Regions from separate parts of the Homo sapiens genome. Here region 2 is linked to region 1. A link means that fine-mapping ties the variant in region 1 to the expression of a gene that starts in the linked region. Tissue or cell type: monocytes after LPS. Region 1 holds a variant in brackets; the other region holds the start of a gene. All regions are shown on one strand. Distances are between the middles of the regions.

Region 1 (8,100 bases):
GTCCTATTTCTTTTTCTGGCTGGCTACACTGTGATGCTGACAAGAGACAGATCGGCTCATGACTTTCACCTGAGAGGACTCAACGAGGCTGGGAGGATCAGAGAGATTTTGAAGCCAGACAGGTGCACGGTGAGTGTGAGTCTTGGCATGGCTGGGGTGGGAGGAGGGAGGAGAGATGTCCCGAGTCAGGAGCCTGAACCCCAGGTGCGTCTGGGCTGGGGCCCCCTCTGGTGTCAGCCAACACCGGGCTCTAAGACAAGAGATTGCTACTAAAGAGTTGAAGCAAAGAGAAGTTGATGGAAAATAGCCCAGCTCTCTGAAGCTGGGATCCAAAGGGTAAAAAGCCCTGGATTTCCAAAGGCCAACTGTCTCATTCTGAATCTGACTGATCCCAAGCACACGGTGGCCTGGTGTGCTGGGGAGATGGTGCTCAAGACAGGCCCCCTTTCCTTCTTACGGGAAGCACTCCCAAGGGACAATGCTGACTCTGGATGGTGTGTGATACTGACACTTCTGCTGCAGAGGTGACGTTTGTCCCCTCTCACTCCAGCAGGAGGCTGAACGAGAAGTTGGGAACACAGGGCTCTAGTCCTAATTCCATCAGACTTGTTTCAGGACCCCAGTAAGTCCATGAACGTCTCCAAACCCGTAAGGGTGAGAAGAATTCCACCTGGGCCATCTTCCATAAATGATTCCAGCTAGAAAGGCCAGGTGCAAGGGCTCTGAAAAGAGTGGCAGGGCCCTATGACCTAAGGGTTACTGCTCAGACAACCAGTCTCCACCCTTGCTCAGACTGAGGCTCACGTTTTTGATGTCACTGGTCTCAAGCTGCTGGCTTCTCTGAGAACATAAAGAAAAATGAAGTGACAGTTCCCTTTTAATCCTGGTGGCTCAGAAGAGCCTGCAGGGTACCCAACGGAAAGCCTAGGACATGTTATTCCTGGGCCATGTGAGGTCAGCTCTGTTCCTAGGAGCCTGGGGGGGAAAAGACTAAGAAAACGTGATCCTCAAGGGGACCCAAGAGGCCTCGGCACTCACTTTTTGAATATGGCATGTCCTTCCCTGACATGTCAGAGATAGCCTGACGTCCAAGCTTAGTGGCCTCTGGGGTTGGCCTGTCACTCAGGCCCAGGCTCCAGGTACAGCCTGCACTCCAGCTTGTTTTCTGCTCTGAGGGGACGCATTGTCCCCCGCCCCACTCCCAGCCTTTCCTCCACCTGCCAATGGTCTCTGGCATCAGCTCTGTTTATAAACTGCCATTGGCCCTCCCTGGTCAATAAACTTCATTACTAGACACAAAATAAGGGATCAATGAACTTCCTGAGAAGACATCAATGGCTAGGCCCGCATTTCTGATTATAAGAAATGAGCTGGGACCCTAAGGGAGCCTCCTATAGAGGAGGCAGCCCCACCAAGGGTGAAGATGACAATCTGGCAGTCTGTGAATCAGGAATGGAGCACAGCGGAGGTTTTCAGCTGGGGTGATTTTGCCTCCCAGACCCTGCTGGGAACATGTGACAATGTCTGAGGACAGTTTTGACTGTCATAAGTAGGAGGTGCTACTGGCAACCAGCAGGCAGAGGCTAGGGATGCTGCTCAGCACCCTACCACACACAGAACAGGCCCACAAGGAGGAATTCCCCAGCCCAAACATCAACAGGACTGAGCTTGAGAAACTCCAGGGTAGAGGAGACTCCCTTTAAGTGTGAGGCTGGTCTCAGACAATGTCTTTATTTTCCATTAGATTTGGGCAAATTAAGAGTCTAGTCTGTAGTGGGGGGCAAAAAAGGCAAAACTGCTGTTTGCTAGAATTCTTAAAGAAATCAGGGCAGACTGCACAACATGAAAATGAGAAAGGAGGTTTAAAAGCATGCGTCTTCCTTCCAATGTGCACTTTATTTTAAAGCTTGCATTTGGAAGGGGACTTTGCGTTGCTGCCAGGAGGAAACGCTTATGCTTGCTCAGGCTGGTGAGACGGGAGGGATGGAAATGGAACAAAGGAGAAGCACAGATGCGGGCTGAACCTGACCAGTTGGTTTTGCTGAATTCTGAAATCCCTCTGTGAGGCCGGTCCAGCAGGGAGGGTGAACCAGGCCCTAGGGCGGCCTTTGGCTGATAATCACATCGCCCTGCCTAAATGCTTAACGTCCTAAAAAGCAGTCAAAGAGATTCTAGTTCCTACAGTCCCCCCGGCTCTAAGTTAAGTGCAGCCACATTTAAGACTAGAAAGAACTGGTAGGGCAGCCCACTCGACAAACGGGGCTTTGACAAAGGGGCAGAAAATCTTCGAAGACAGTTGCAAGGGGAAGGATGAACTGAGAATGTGACTGACTCTCAATGAAATGGAAATAAACAGGTCTGGGCATTAAAAACTAAACTCTTTTTTCTGGTTTTCTTTTTTTTTTGAGACAAGGTCCTACTCTGCAGCCCAGACTGGAGGGCAGTGGTGTGATCTCGGCTCACTGCAACCTCCGCCTCCCAGGTTCAAGTGATTCTTGTGCTTCAGCCTCTGGAGTAGCTGGGACCACAGGTGTGCACCACCACGCCCAGCTAATTTTCATATTTTTACTTGAGATGGGGTTTCACCATGTTGGCCAGGCTGGTCTCCAACTCCTGGTCTCAAGTGATCCGCCTGCCTCGGCCTCCCAAAGTGCTGGGATTATAGGCATAAGCCACCATGCCTGGCCATTAAATTCTTTTTTTTTTTTTTGAGACGGAGTCTCGCTCTGTAGCCCAGGCTGGAGTGCAGTGGCGCGATCTTGGCTCACTGCAAGCTCCGCCTCCAGGATTCATGCCATTCTCCTGCCTCAGCCTCCCGAGTAGCTGGGACTACAGGCGCCTGCCACCATGCCCGGCTAATTTTTTGTATTTTTAGTAGAGACAGGGTTTCACCGTGTTAGCCAGGATGGTCTCGATCTCCTCACCTCGTGAGCCGCCTGCCTCGGCCTCCCAAAGTGCTGGGATTACAGGAGTTAGCCACCGTGCCCGGCCCACTAAACTCTTAAATAGCTCATCTTCCAAAAGAACCAGATTTGCCATGGAGATATAAGATGTCGCTGGCACACCCAACAACTCAACCCCAGAGTTGGGTGGCTCCCTTATGGTTGCAGCCAGATCCCAGGAAGGAGCAGGTTCACCAGCACACTTCAGGGCTCCGGTCTCACTCAGCAAGCCTGGGTGTGGGCTCCTAGCGCCCTCTGCCGGCCACTGGGAAGCCACGCCCAGGCGTGCGCATAGCAGATTCTAGCGCTGTCAGAAGGTGTTATTCTAGACAGAATCGGCCAGAAGAGGGCAAGGTCAGAGGCAATCAAGCAGGAGGTGCAAAACCATCAACCGGCCTCCATCAACTTCCTTTGCAGGAAAAGGAAAAAGCTTATTTTGTAGCTGCCTCAGGTTCCTGACCTCCACTGGAGTAGCTGCCTGGGGTTCCTGACCCTCACTGGAGTAGCTGCCTGGGGTTCCTGAACCTCACTGGAGTAGCTGCCTGGGGTTCCTGACCTCCGCTGGAGTAGCTGCCTGGGGTTCCTGACCCTCACTGGAGTAGCTGCCTGGGGTTCCTGACCCTGGCTGGAGTAGCTGCCTGGGGTTCCTGACTTCCGCTAGAGAAGCGGCCTCTTTGTTTTTAATGCCCGCAGACAGGGAGGAATCCAGGAAAACAGGTCAGCAAGGTGGCTTCTCAGGTGCTGAGGGAGCAGCTCTACCACCTGCTCTGCCCCATGGTCTGGCTGTCAGGGTGGAGCCCTCATTACAAGGGTGCAGGCCTGCAGGGAAGCACCAGCTCCCCGTTTCCCCACACCCCACCCCCAAAAGAACTTCTACCTTTATTGAAGAACATGGAGGCCATTTGTCCCATTTCCACCCGGTCTGTGATTTCAAACGGGTTGGGAGATCCACGTCTCTCTGCAGAGCCAAAAGAACAAGGAAGAGGAAGTGGTTCTTCACGTGGAGAGCTTCAGAGGGTGGTGAGGACCTCACTGAATTATCTAAACCATGAAATCCCCAAGTGTCCAAACTCGAGAAAACTTTTCCTAATGTTTCCTGCTTGACATGGTTTAACACAGTCTTTTTTTTTTTTTTTTTTTTAAGGGAATTCAGAGATGCTCCTGCTGGGGTGAAAGGGAGAGCAGGCGTCAGAGCCTAACCCAGCCGACCAGGGAGGAGACAGCAAGGCAGGGGCATGTATGAACATGAGGGCACAAGGCAGGAGGAAGAAGAGATGCCACAGAACGACATCTACTTGAGCTTCCAGGGTGCACCAGGCAAGGAACCAGGCATTTAATCATCTCAGTAACAGGAAGGGGTATGGGGGGAAACTGAGGTGCACAGGTCAAGGAACTTACCAAGCTGCAAATCTGAGTAGTGGCCAAGCCAGCAGGGGCCAGGCCTGTGCCCAGGACTGAAACCCTGTGCTCTTTTGAGTCTACCACAGGGCCTGCCTCAGAACCCAGGGGCAGGAAATGCCAGAATCTGCGGGGAGCCTCTCCAGGGCCCTCTCCATGAAGAAAGGGAACCCTGTGGCCCGGAGGGAAGTGCGGGCCCGCGAGAACCCCAAGACTTACGCACAGACAGGATGGGCCGCTTCTCTGCCCGCTCGTAGTTGTCCCGGATGAGAACATCGCTGTCTGAGGCTGTGGAGGAGTCGTCATCTTCCTCCTCCTGGGAGCCAGTAGGATGGACGAGGAGGAGGGAGGAAAACAAGGGAAAAGAAAGGAGCACATCAAAAAAGTACAGAATGTTAGCCAGGTGTGGTGTCATGTGCCTGTAGTCCTAGCTACCTGGGAGGCTGAGATGGGAGGATCACCTGAGCCCAGGAGATCGAGGCTGCAGTGAGCCGTGATTGCAACACTGCACTCCAGCCTGGGTGACAGAGCGAAGACCCTGTCTCAAAAAAACAAAAAAACAAAAAAA[C/A]AAAAAAGAAAGAGAGAAAGGAAAAAAAAAGAGCATGGAACTCTACAGAAAAGCCCTAGGACAATGGCAAACCTGCTTCCTTTTTTTTTTTTTTTTTTTTTTGAGACGAAGTTTTGCTCTTGTTGCCTGGGCTGGAGTGCAATGGTGTGATCTCAACTCACTGCAACCTCTGCCTCCCAGGTTCAAGTGATTCTCCTGCCTCAGCCTCCCGAGTAGCTGAGATTACAGGCACTTGCCACCACGGCCGGCTAATTTTGTATTTTTAGTAGAGATGGGGTTTCACCATGTTAGTCAGGCTGGTCTTGAACTCCTGACCTCAGGTGATCCACCCACCTCGGCCTCCCAAAGTGCTGGGATTGCAGGCATGAGCCACTGTGCCCGGCCTCTTTTTTTTTTTTTTTTTTGAAATGCTTGCCACTTCATGTTATCTCAGTCTGTTGCCCAGGATGGAGTGCAGTGGCACAATCTCAGCTCACTGCAACCTTCACCTCCCCGATTCACGCAATTCTTGTGCCTCAGCCTCCTGAGTAGCTGCGATTACAGGCACACATCATCATGCCAGGCTAATTTTTGCATTTTTAGTAGAGATGAGGTTTCACCATGTTGGCCAGGCTGATCTTGAACTCCTGACTTCAAGTGATCTGCCCGCCTTGGCCTCCCAAAGTGCTGGGATTACAGGTGTGAGCCCCCCCACCGGCCCCTGTGTTCTTTCCTTCTGCAGGGTATCTGTATCTTTAGGAAGCTCTCAGCACAGCTATGCTGCCCCATTAGAGGTGGCAGAGACGCACTCGGGAAGAAGTGACAACACAGTTCCTGGGTACAAAGATTTCAAACAGCTGAGCTGGGTGCGGGTGTGGGTAGGAGGGCCTGAGGCTGAGACGGGAAAGTGGCAGAGGCTCCATTTGTGCTTTAAGATTTAGGTGGCTATTAAGCTTCAGCTCTGGGACTGGGGTCCAGGAGCAGTGCCGTGGACAGAGCCCGCCATGCACTGAGAGGAAAAGAATGGGCTGCTGAGACCGCCTGCTGGGTACCTGACGGAACAGAGGCATGGCCCGGAGACGAGGGCAACACACACACCTTGAGGTTCTCCATCCTCTTCCAGTGGAGCTGCGCGTTGGCTGCAGCCATGGCCTCTATCACAAAGGTGGTGGTCACGAAGCTGAGGGGGCCGAGTGCCCAGCGCCAAAGGCGGACAGGTTGGAGGAGACAGAGAGAGAAGGAAAACACCATTGTAAGAACCGACCAGACCCACCAGCCCAGACCATTCTCTTTTCTGAGAGCTGTTCCCTAGAGATGGGCTTTACTTGGTAAAAAGGTGTGCATGCTTTGACGTTGCTGTCTATAGTGAGAACGTATTTCCGGTGCACGAGAGAGAGAGGTGTGAACTAAGTGATGGGAGGGAAAATAACCAAAGGAGAGAGGGAGCTGGGGGCAGACGTGATACTGGGACAAGCCGTGCTCACACCCAGGAGGGGCTGTTGGGGGCAGACATCAGAGGACGCTCTCAGTGAGGGGAGGCTGGTTCACAAAGGGCCCCCCAGCCTCTGGAAGGACAGCAGGCAGCTTTCACGTCAACCTTGCAAGGACACAGGCGAGTGGTCACCTCCCAATTACATACACTCACGGAAGGAGCGCAGGCATGGATAATTGGAAATGGGTACTTGGCTCCGGAATCCATCCCTTTTTTCTTTGGCAGTACTTTTTACTTTCCAAATAATCTGGCTAATATTAAAATAAGTTTGCACTTCTACGGACCAATTCAAAAGGGAGATTGGGAGGTGGCATTAGACGCTTGCCAAGAAGTCAGACTAGATTGGAAAAATCATCTTTTCTTTTCCTCTTAAAGAAACTTGAGGCCAGGGGCGGTGGCTCATGCCTGTAAACCCAGCACTTTGGGAGGTTGAGGTGGGTGGATCACAAGGTCAGGAGTTCAAGACCAGCCTGGCCAAAATGGTGAAACTTCGTCTGTACTAAAAATACAAAAAAATTAGCTGGGCATGGTGGCACATGCCTGTAATCCCAGCTACTTGGGAGGCTGAGGCAGGAGAATTGCTTGAATCCGGGAGGCAGAAGTTGCAGTGAGCCGAGATCGTGCCACTGCACTCCAGCCTGGGTGACAGAGCGAGATTCTGTCTCAAAAAAAAAAAAAAGGATACTTGAGAGACCTAGATGACAGCTGGAATGCATGAATGCTTTTGTTAACGGAGGATACAGAAGTGGGCTGCCTTCCTGCTAATAAAACCTGAGGTATGAATCCATCTCTGCCGTGGAACAGCATGGGACGAACATTCATCTCCTGCTTTCTTTTTTTTTTTTTTTGAGACGGAGTCTCGCTCTGTCGCCCAGGCCGGACTGCGGACTGCAGTGGCGCAATCTCGGCTCACTGCAAGCTCCGCTTCCCGGGTTCACGCCATTCTCCTGCCTCAGCCTCCCGAGTAGCTGGGACTACAGGCACCCGCCACCGCGCCCGGCTAATTTTTTGTATTTTTAGTAGAGACGGGGTTTCACCTTGTTAGCCAGGATGGTCTCGATCTCCTGACCTCATGATCCACCTGCCTCGGCCTCCCAAAGTGCTGGGATTACAGGTGTGAGCCACCGCGCCCGGCCCATCTCCTGCTTTCTTGAGGCCAGGACAACTCTGCCAGCAGACTCACCCCTGCCTCTCCCTGAGTGTTGACAAGGGTTGGGGGGCTGACTGCTCACCCTGACGTCAGGTGGCAGGAGGCAGAGGGGTCACTTGGCCCCACACCAGTTAAACCCACACTCACTCCCACTCTGGGGGAGCAGCCAGCTCTGAAACCCCCATTCCAATCGCCTCAGCACCTCCTAGAAAGGTTTCTCATTATCTTGCCTAAGTGACCATTTTAAGGGCTTTGGATTTACCCTTCTTTTTGGACGTGAAATTAAAATCAATCTTAATTAAGGCATAAAGAGACTTTTCATGGTTGCGCAAGGCCAACTCATCGATCACGTTCAAACACAAATGGGTTGAGCAAGGAGCGGGGTGTGGTACCCCCTGCCTGGGAGCCCAGAATGATCACTTCCCATTAGATGGCTGCCTGTGCTGAAGGTCCTTTAAAGGGGACAGCGGAGTCATGTAAGGACAAGGACTTCTAGAGCTCTTGGCTGCCAGGGCTCACTGTAGATAATGAACCAATAGTGCCCCAAGATTCACCCTCAAAACTCCCCAAA
Region 2 (8,100 bases), 43 kb after region 1:
ACAGCCTGGCTAGTACAGCTGAGCTGGCTCGGCTCTGCCCGGCCGGCACTCTGAACCCAGACTCAAGGGTTTAGGCCTCATCCTGTGACTGGTGGTGAATGGGGGGAGGAGGGCTTTAAGCAGGGGAACAGCAGGGCGGGTCTTGCTGCTCCTCTCTCCCCACGGGGCAGGCGGGGAAGGCCATCCACAAAGCAAAGCCGGTGGGCAGAGCTGGAGAGCCACTTCCACCTCCTTAGGCCTAGACTCCCCAGCGGGGATGGCCAGTGTTACAGGCACCCCTCAGCCTCTGCCCTGAGTGGTTCTGGACACAGCTGGTCTTCCCAGCCAGAGGCCACCCAGCCAACCACTCTCTGCGCCACACTTTTCCACTGATATCATCACTTAGTAAGTGGAGGGCTAATGAAGACAAGGGAACAGCCCCACCTTGCACACAAATTCAGACTAAAACGAATTGGCAAACCTCCATTTGATGCTTTATGTAGGAAACGGGTGTGTTTTAGAAAAACGAACTCTTACAATGTCTGTTAACATTTTTTCTAATAACCACATGGGTGTCTGTATGCTCAACACACAGGATTGAGAGGAGAGGATTTTCTGCTAGAAGGACTCAATGGTGTTGACTAGGAGTCAGTTTAGAGGAGCTGGGATTCAAACGCCAGGCATGAAGGAGTGCAGTTCAGCATTTAGTAAGGGGCTCAAGTGCTTCACGTCATTTCTATAATTCTAGAGAAGGCAGGCATCACATCGCCCAATGCCTCCATCTCACAGATGGGAGAACCAGAACTCAGAAGTCCTGGGACTTGGCTGGTGATGGTGTCCCCAGGATTTGCTGGTGGCTCTCCTCTCATCTCCTGGCCTAACAAAGTACACACAAATGTAGGTGTCCCTCCAAAACATGCAGGAATCTGAGTCTGTGCTCACCCAGGAAGCTCAAAGCTGCTGCCTTTGCGCACGTGTGCTATGCCAGGCCTCCACGTTCGCCTCCCAGGCCCTCTGGCACCCAGCAGCATAACCAAAAGGGCAAAGGGAGGAGCTGAACGAGACTGCAACTTGTGGGGGGTGGGGGTGGGTGGGTATTTGTGTGGGTGCCAAAGTCCAAAAAAAAAAAAAAAAAAGAATGTCAAATCGATCGATGGACTCAGCACAAAGTTCACACTGGATTTCTGCCTGGGACTGGAGATCATCGGCCCCAACTCCCTGGCATCAACCTCCTTGCTCCGGGTGCTCAGATCCCTTCCCCCTCCCCTTGCCAATGCCAGCTTGGCAGGGGCAGGAAGTGGGAGCCTGGTGGCCCTGGCATTCCCAGCACCCAGCTCTGGCTGGACAGGGCTTCTGGTGACCTCACTTCCACCAAACCAGTTGATCCTCTAGGGCTTTGCCTTCTACCTTAATGCCGAACTGTGCCCTTTCTCTGTCCAGGAGGCTCCTCGTAGCCCCACGGACACTCCCATCAGACACTGCCACCAGGGAGAGCTGGTGGTGCAAGCTGAAGGGGTCCTGGGAGGCTCACGCCCTGCCCTACACAATGCACCACTCCACTCTCTGGGGACAGGAGGCTCAGCACAACTCCTATTTTGCCAGCTGCCCCTCTTGCAGCTGATCCAAACTGGGATCCCATGGGCAAACACCAAACATGGGCAAAAAGCAACCGGCCTGCTGGCTGTGTGGGCACCAGAGTGACCATGGCAAGGCCAGGGCAAGACCACCGGCTCACCGTGAGCTCCGCTGGCGCACACAGGGCCGTGAGCCCCAGGAGCTCTCTCTCCTCCCCATGGCCATCTTTTTCTTCTTCCAAGGTCTTTCCCCTTCCCTCCCAGATACAGTTCTAGGCGCTTACTCTTCACATTCCTGAGAATCGTAAATCCTCTGAGGTGGCAGAACCACCACTCCGAGATGCCTTGGCTCCTCCTCCCTGCCAGGCAACCCCCACACCGCCCTGAGATGGTGGGGCTTCCTCTCCCTTAGAAGTCACACAGGACTCCGGGAGGATGAAGTCCAGCAGGACTGAAGTTCAGGACACACACCGGCGGGCTGCGGAGAGGGCCTCCTCGCGCCGGGGCTCCACACAGGAGGAGTAATGCTATTCCTCTAGCTTTTGAAGTAGGAGTGGCGGGCGAAGCTGGCACCTCTGGGGCGGAGAGCCCTTTCTCCCCGGCCCATCTGCGGACTGGGGTGAACGAGGAGAGGGCACCAGGGAAGGAGCAGGATTGGGGGATTCCGAGGAACGGGAGCAGACACCCACAGACCCGAGGGAAGGGGGCTGGGTTCCCCTGCGCCGCCCTCCCAAAGGCCAGGGAACAAGAGGTGCAGGCGGCAAAGGCGCTCAAGCTCCCAGCACAGCCTGGGAAGGAGAGGAGGTCGCGGGACGCAGCCCCAGGCCTGCCTAGGATGTGTCAGGGCGCCTGGTCGGCGGGCGGAAGCGGTCTCCCCCTCGCAGCTCGAGTTTCAGAAAAACGACGGCGGGCGCGGGGCTGGACGGCCGGGGCACCTGGGTCTCTCCGGATCCTCCTCCCACTCCATGCCAGCCTGCGCGGCTTGGGCCCCGCTTACCTGCTCCGGGTGGCTCTTGTCGGCCTCGCGAGGCTCATTTTCGTTGCCAGCCCCCTGCACCTCGGCGGCGGCCGGCGGCTCGGCCTGCCCCGGCGCTTCCTGGGCGCGCAGCAGCTCCTCTCGGACCTGGACGCCGAGCTTCTGCAGCTGCTCGTCCGTCTCGGGGTCGACCACCAGCAGGCGCACGGCGTTGAGTGCGGCGCGGATGCGGCTCACCACCTGCTGGTGGGTCTCCTTCTCCACGTTTTCGCCGTTCACCTCCACCAGCCGGTCCCCCGCCAGCAGCCCCGCCTTCTCGGCCGGCGAGCCGGGCTCCACCAGCCGGATGTACTGGCCCAACTTGCCCTTCTCCCCGTGCAGGTGGAAGCCGTAGCCGTTCGGACCCTTCTCCAGGCAGCAGAGCCGGGGCAGGGGCGCCCCGGCCGCTGCGTCCGCGCTCATCTCGCCCTGCGACGGGTCAGCGGCGCGACTTGGGGTTCCGATGGGGACGGGACGGGACGGCCCAGCCCTTCTTCCCGTCCAGCGAACCGGGAGCGCAGCAGAGAAGCCCTGAGCCGCCGGACGGGCCAAGCAAGCAGGTGTCCCAGGAACCGTCGGCCGCCGCGAGCCGCGAGGAGCCGAGAGAGGACCACAGACCAATCCCCGCCCCGCGCGGCGTCTGAGCGTCCCAGAGTCCGCCCCGGCTCCTTACCCCGGGGGCGGGGCCGCGCTGAGGGTGGGGACCTCCGCGGGCCAATAGGGGGCTGCAGGCCTGGGCGCTCCGGCCGGGTGAACGGCGCCGGCCATTGGGAACGCGCGGGGCGGGGCCTGCGCTCGGCGCGGCGCCCCGCGGCGGGCGAAGACTAGCGCTCAGGAAGTGGAAGTGTTTGTTACCGAGCGGCCGGCGCTGGGGTGGCAGGGGCGGGGCTCGCCGAATTCCCGGTTCTGGGCGGGTGGGCCCGCCGGCTCCGGCCTGGTTTCCCCTACCTGTGGCGGGGAGTGAGGAAAGCCGGCCCTCGGGTAAAGGACCCTAACTTTTTTTTTTTTTTTTGAGACGGAGTCTCGCTCTGTCGCCCAGGCTGGACTGCCGTGGCGCGATCTCGGATCACTGCAACCTCCGCCTCCCGGGTTCAAGCGATTCCCCTGCCTCAGCCTCCCGAGCAGCTGGGGTTACAGGCGCGCACCACCACGCCCCGCTAATTTTTGTATTTTTAGTAGAGACGAAATTTCGCCATGTTGGCCAGGATGGTTTCAAACTCCTGACCTCAGGTGATCCGCCCTGGGATTACAGACGTGAGCCACCGCACCTGGCCAACGTTTTAACAGCCTTTAGCCAAAGCCTGGGTGCAGCTCCAGTTGAGAGGGAGCGGCTGTTGCCGGGGCAACTGCTCCCGCTCGGGGCAGCGAGGGCCGGTCAGTCTCGAGAATTAAGACGGAGGGCCTCCTCGGACCCTACAGAGTTGTTTGAATAACATTTTTCCGTTTGTGGGAACCCTAACCCTAATCCACTTTGTGCTGTCCCAGGACTCGCATAGAGGAGTGCAGGTTCTGATCCCTGCTGGGAAGGTGAGGGCTCCGCGGAGAGCCTGGGACCTCGAGGGGCAGCCCGCTGAAGACAGGCCATCTAGGGCAATAGCGTGGGCTTTGGCAGCAGCGTTTGGCTAGGGAGGTGGGGTGGGGAGAGGCAGGACAGACTCAGGTAATCAACCTCTGGGTACACGCCACAGGGAAAGGAGCCTTGGTTTTTTTTTTTTTTTTCCAACAGAAAAATGATTAGGACTGTAAAGCCTTCTAGCTCCCTCTTGCCAAAGAGAGGCTGGTCACAGAGGCGGGAGACAGTCTGTTGAGCGGGGAGCTGACCATCTGAGGACAGACACTGAGGAAGGAGGATGGAATGATTTTGGCAGTGAATGACAATTCCTTCAACAAGACCCCCCCCCCCCACTCACTTCAAAGAAACAGTGGACAGGATGTGCTTTCCAAAATACTGCAGTTTAATTCTGAAAAACTCAAATGCAAGAGGCCCAGAGCTGTCTATGGGATTGGATCTCCTGCAACCTGCCTTGGGCCCCAGAAGAGACTGGCAATGTCAGCCTCCTCCCTGCTCTGCCTGAGGGAGGCCACGGAGAACTTCCTTATCGGGCCCAAACTGGAGCCGCTGACTGCTCAGAGCAAGATTTCTGCCTTGAAAGCAAATGCAGTAGCCTCAGAAATGTGCAGCGCATACTTCTTCCTCCCCCTCTCCCCCTCCAGGCCGGCAGAGCTGCAGTAAAGATGCCTGCAGGTCATGACCTCATGTTTCCTGTCCACTTCCCATGGCAGGGATCGGAGCTTTGGGAGATATGTGACCAAGGAGGACACATGAACTTGCTACCCCTCTCTCTACCCCAGACATACCCACATGACTTTGTTTTACTCATATTGCATTGGTTTAACTCGGAAATGGGTGACCTCCCACCACCTAACCTGACTCAGTAGGAGGGGAGGTAAAGCAGTTTAGGCCCTGGTATCTGTTTGAGAAGTTAAAGGAAAGGGCATGGGTGGTCAGGGAGGAGGCAGAGCTTGGGGTCAAAGGGATACATGTCAGGGGAGGTTTGCTTAATCTTGTCTCCCACCAGCTCCAGGAGCCAGGGATTTCTCTTTTTTTTCACAACACATTCCAAACCTAGGAAAGGGATTTCTCCTTATCTGGCTCTTAACCCAGGAGGGCTAAACACTTCAGCTGCTTGAAGAAATCGCCTGTGGAGCTGCATGCCTGCCAAAGGATTGGGATAAGACACATCTAGCCTGGGCATGGTGCCTTCTGCGTGTAATCCCAGTACTTTGGGAGGCCGAGGCCGGCAGGTTGCTTGAGCTCAGGAATTCAAGACCAGCCTGGGCAACATGGCGAAACCCTGTGTCTACAAAAAATACAAAAATTAGCCAGGTGTGATGGTACACACCTATAGTCCCAGCTACTTCGGCGGCTGAGGTGGGAGGATCGCTTGAGCCCCAGGGAGTGGAGGTTGTAGTGAGCGGAGATTGCACTACTGCACCTCAGCCTGGGCGACAGAACGAGACTCCATTTCAAAAAAATAAAAACAAAACTCTTTTCCTAGTTCTGACCTGAGGTTTTTAGGTGCACAGGCAGGAAGGTAGCTAAGCCAGGGATTCAGGGGGGGGAGGGGCTCCCCCAGGATCTGAAGTCCAGAGAACAGGAGCCTGGAACCAATATTTCCAGGTGCCCCAATGTGCTTGTGTGCTGGAGAAAAGGGGCATGCCTCCAGGGGGGTGTTAGTAAGGCCAGAGATAGCCAGCTAGACCCTACTCTCTGCCCCTTGTCCTCCCCCTCCCATCTCCATATCTCTTATCTTCCCTGAGGCTTTGGTCTTCCTCACAGCACAAGGGCCCACTTATTTGGGAGATGGGGCGAAGATAAGCTCCTGGAGAGCGGGAGACAGTGAAGGCTGGGGTCACCTGAGCCTCTGTCCAGCTGAACTGAGGGTGCGATGGAGTCATTACCTGCCCTCACCCCCAAAGTGCATCTGTGTCCCCTGGGGCTGAGCTGGAGCAACACCACCTTTGTTATGCTTAGGAGGGAGGGCCGGCCCCCCAAGTCCTAGAAAGCAAAAGGGCCACTAGCTCCCAGCCTCGGTTTTTTGGGGATCCAGGCGCCTTTTTTGGTATTAAATTATGTACTATTAAAATAAAAGCTAAGTGTTTTACCCTCCCTGTGGATGCGGGGAGACCGCAGGAACTCAAGTAGGAGTTGGAGTATAGCTCCCTGCTAGGAAGCGGCTGTGCAGTGAGTCCTCCATCTTTCTCCCCATTGGCTCAGCCTCTTGGAATAAGCCAGGCCTGGGAGGGGGAAGGCTGCATCCTGTGTGCCTCCAGAGCCTCCTCTCTGCCCCCTGGGATTCACATGAAGGAGCAGCAGCTGGAGCGCTTCTTCTGGGACTCTACATAGTCTCGGATCTGGAAGCTGGGCTCATCCGCCTGATGCCCGGCCCGGTATTTCAGTTCCCTTGAAGAAGAGACAATGGGCTGGGCTGGGCTGGGCTGGGCTGGGGTGAGGAGCTGAGCCGCCCCCTCCCCTCTCCCAGTGGCCCAGTGCTCCCAGAGCAAATGGACCTCAGCCTGCAGAATGCAGGTGTGTCCAGGGGCTGGGCCAGGGGCCGGGCCCTACTGGATTCCTGGAGTGTGCCGCCCTGCCCCGCACACTTCCCTTCCCTGCCCAGCTCTCACTTGGCGATGGCCAGAAAGGCTAACTCCACATTCATGCCAGTCTTGGCGCTGGTCTCCAGGAAGGGAACACCGTACTCCTGCCCGGGAGAGAGTGTCCTCAGGGCCAGCGTCGGGTTGCCCCCACCCTTCACCCTGTCCCACAGACAATCACTTACCCTGGCCAAGGTCTCTCCGTCTTCGGAACGGATCACTCTTTCGCTGCTCATATCCGCCTGTCAAGCCCAAATGGGTCACTCTGGGGAAGGAGGCCTCCGCCCCAGCGGGCCCATATTTTGCCCCAGAAGCAGGCGTTGCCTGCCCTCTGCTGGTGGCCCAAGGGACTGCAGGCAGGTGTGATTGGCCTGGGGCCAGGGTTTCTGCCCAGTGTAGCTCCCAGCTCTGGGATCTCACCTTTGGTAAAGGGTCTTGGAATAGGACAGCAGTTGGGGCTAACCCTTTGCACTCTTAGCCCCTGACCTGGGACCCTGTTCACTCTGCTCTAATGGGGGCTGAGAACTGGGCACCCCTTGATTTCTCAGGCAACAACTTGGACTTTCCCTGGAAGGGGCAGATGGGATGGGCAGAAGCCTCCAGATATGTCTGACCCCTGAGCTGGAGGCTGCAGAGTCCTTTTCAGGAAGGATGCCTAGATAACTGTTCTTGGGTGGTTATGGGGCCGGCTAGGGCTGAGGAAGTGCAGGGCTGGGCTGACCCTGCCCCGGAGCCACTCACCTTGTTGCCTAGCAGCATGATCACCACGTCCCTCTGGGCATACTCATGAATCTCAGTGAGCCAGGCCTGTGGGAGAGGGCGTGCGAGACTGGCATTCTCTTCCTCCTGCTGCCCCTTTCTTCTTCTGCTCCGTTTGACTATCCTCAGTTACTCACTACCTTGAACACGATACCCTGTGCGTTCTCTCATCTGTACCTTTGTTCTGGCCCATCCAGGCCTGGATGGCCTTCCTTGGTGGCTCAACCCACAATGGCCCCACCCTCACCATTTTATGCTGTGCAACTATCAGTTCTATGGAAGATCCAGATGCATGGAGACCTTATCTCACAAATCAGTTGGCTGTCAGCAGTGATTTCTTGGAGTGTCCTGTTAAAGATTCTAAGACCACATAAGGGTTTCAGTGATCAAAAGTACTGTGATTGATTAGTGATGTCTGCCATGAGCATGGGGTTGGAGGTAGGAGTATGAGTGCCATGGATTTTCCTCTTTCTATATAAACGTTTTATTCTCCTAGTTTGCTTATCAGCAAACTGTCCTTGAGGTCAGGGGATTCATGAAACCTATACAATGTCGTGAACAAAATTGGTGCTTGAATTTATCAAATTTTTGTCTCTATAATAGTTTGGTTGTGAGGAT

Which allele goes with the higher level. Alleles are on the strand shown, and positions count from the first base shown. SD is a standard deviation of normalised expression in the study named.
As copies of A replace C in region 1, the expression in monocytes after LPS of the gene that starts at base 3,210 in region 2 goes up (small effect, 0.40 SD a copy in Quach 2016).

The links. PIP is the estimated chance that this variant, and not a neighbour inherited with it, causes the effect.
Region 2: it holds the start of NHERF1, and the variant in region 1 is fine-mapped to the expression of NHERF1 in monocytes after LPS (Quach 2016, PIP 0.95).

Annotation. Positions count from the first base shown.
Region 1 is chr17:74,786,756-74,794,855 of GRCh38, reverse strand. SLC38A12 (solute carrier family 38 member 12) reads right to left here. Exons shown (of 10, transcript NM_017728.4): 4 at 5,986-6,067; 5 at 4,560-4,656; 6 at 3,820-3,900. Among named protein-coding and RNA genes, the nearest start is that of SLC38A12, 14 kb to the right of the region's middle. The variant C/A (reference allele first, on the strand shown) is at 4,909.
Region 2 is chr17:74,743,738-74,751,837 of GRCh38, reverse strand. NHERF1 (NHERF family PDZ scaffold protein 1) reads right to left here and starts at 3,210. Exons shown (of 6, transcript NM_004252.5): 1 at 2,551-3,210. The coding sequence starts at 2,991. RAB37 (RAB37, member RAS oncogene family) reads right to left here. Exons shown (of 9, transcript NM_001006638.3): 6 at 7,465-7,530; 7 at 6,909-6,965; 8 at 6,754-6,830; 9 at 4,503-6,532. The coding sequence ends at 6,427. It overlaps SLC9A3R1-AS1 (SLC9A3R1 antisense RNA 1), which reads left to right and starts at 1,971. Exons shown (of 3, transcript NR_187307.1): 1 at 1,971-2,775; 2 at 2,911-3,265; 3 at 4,295-6,238. It overlaps MIR3615 (microRNA 3615), which reads right to left and starts at 3,225; the gene lies at 3,139-3,225. RefSeq lists enhancers at 114-655, 2,147-2,772, 4,061-4,656 and a silencer at 2,977-3,666.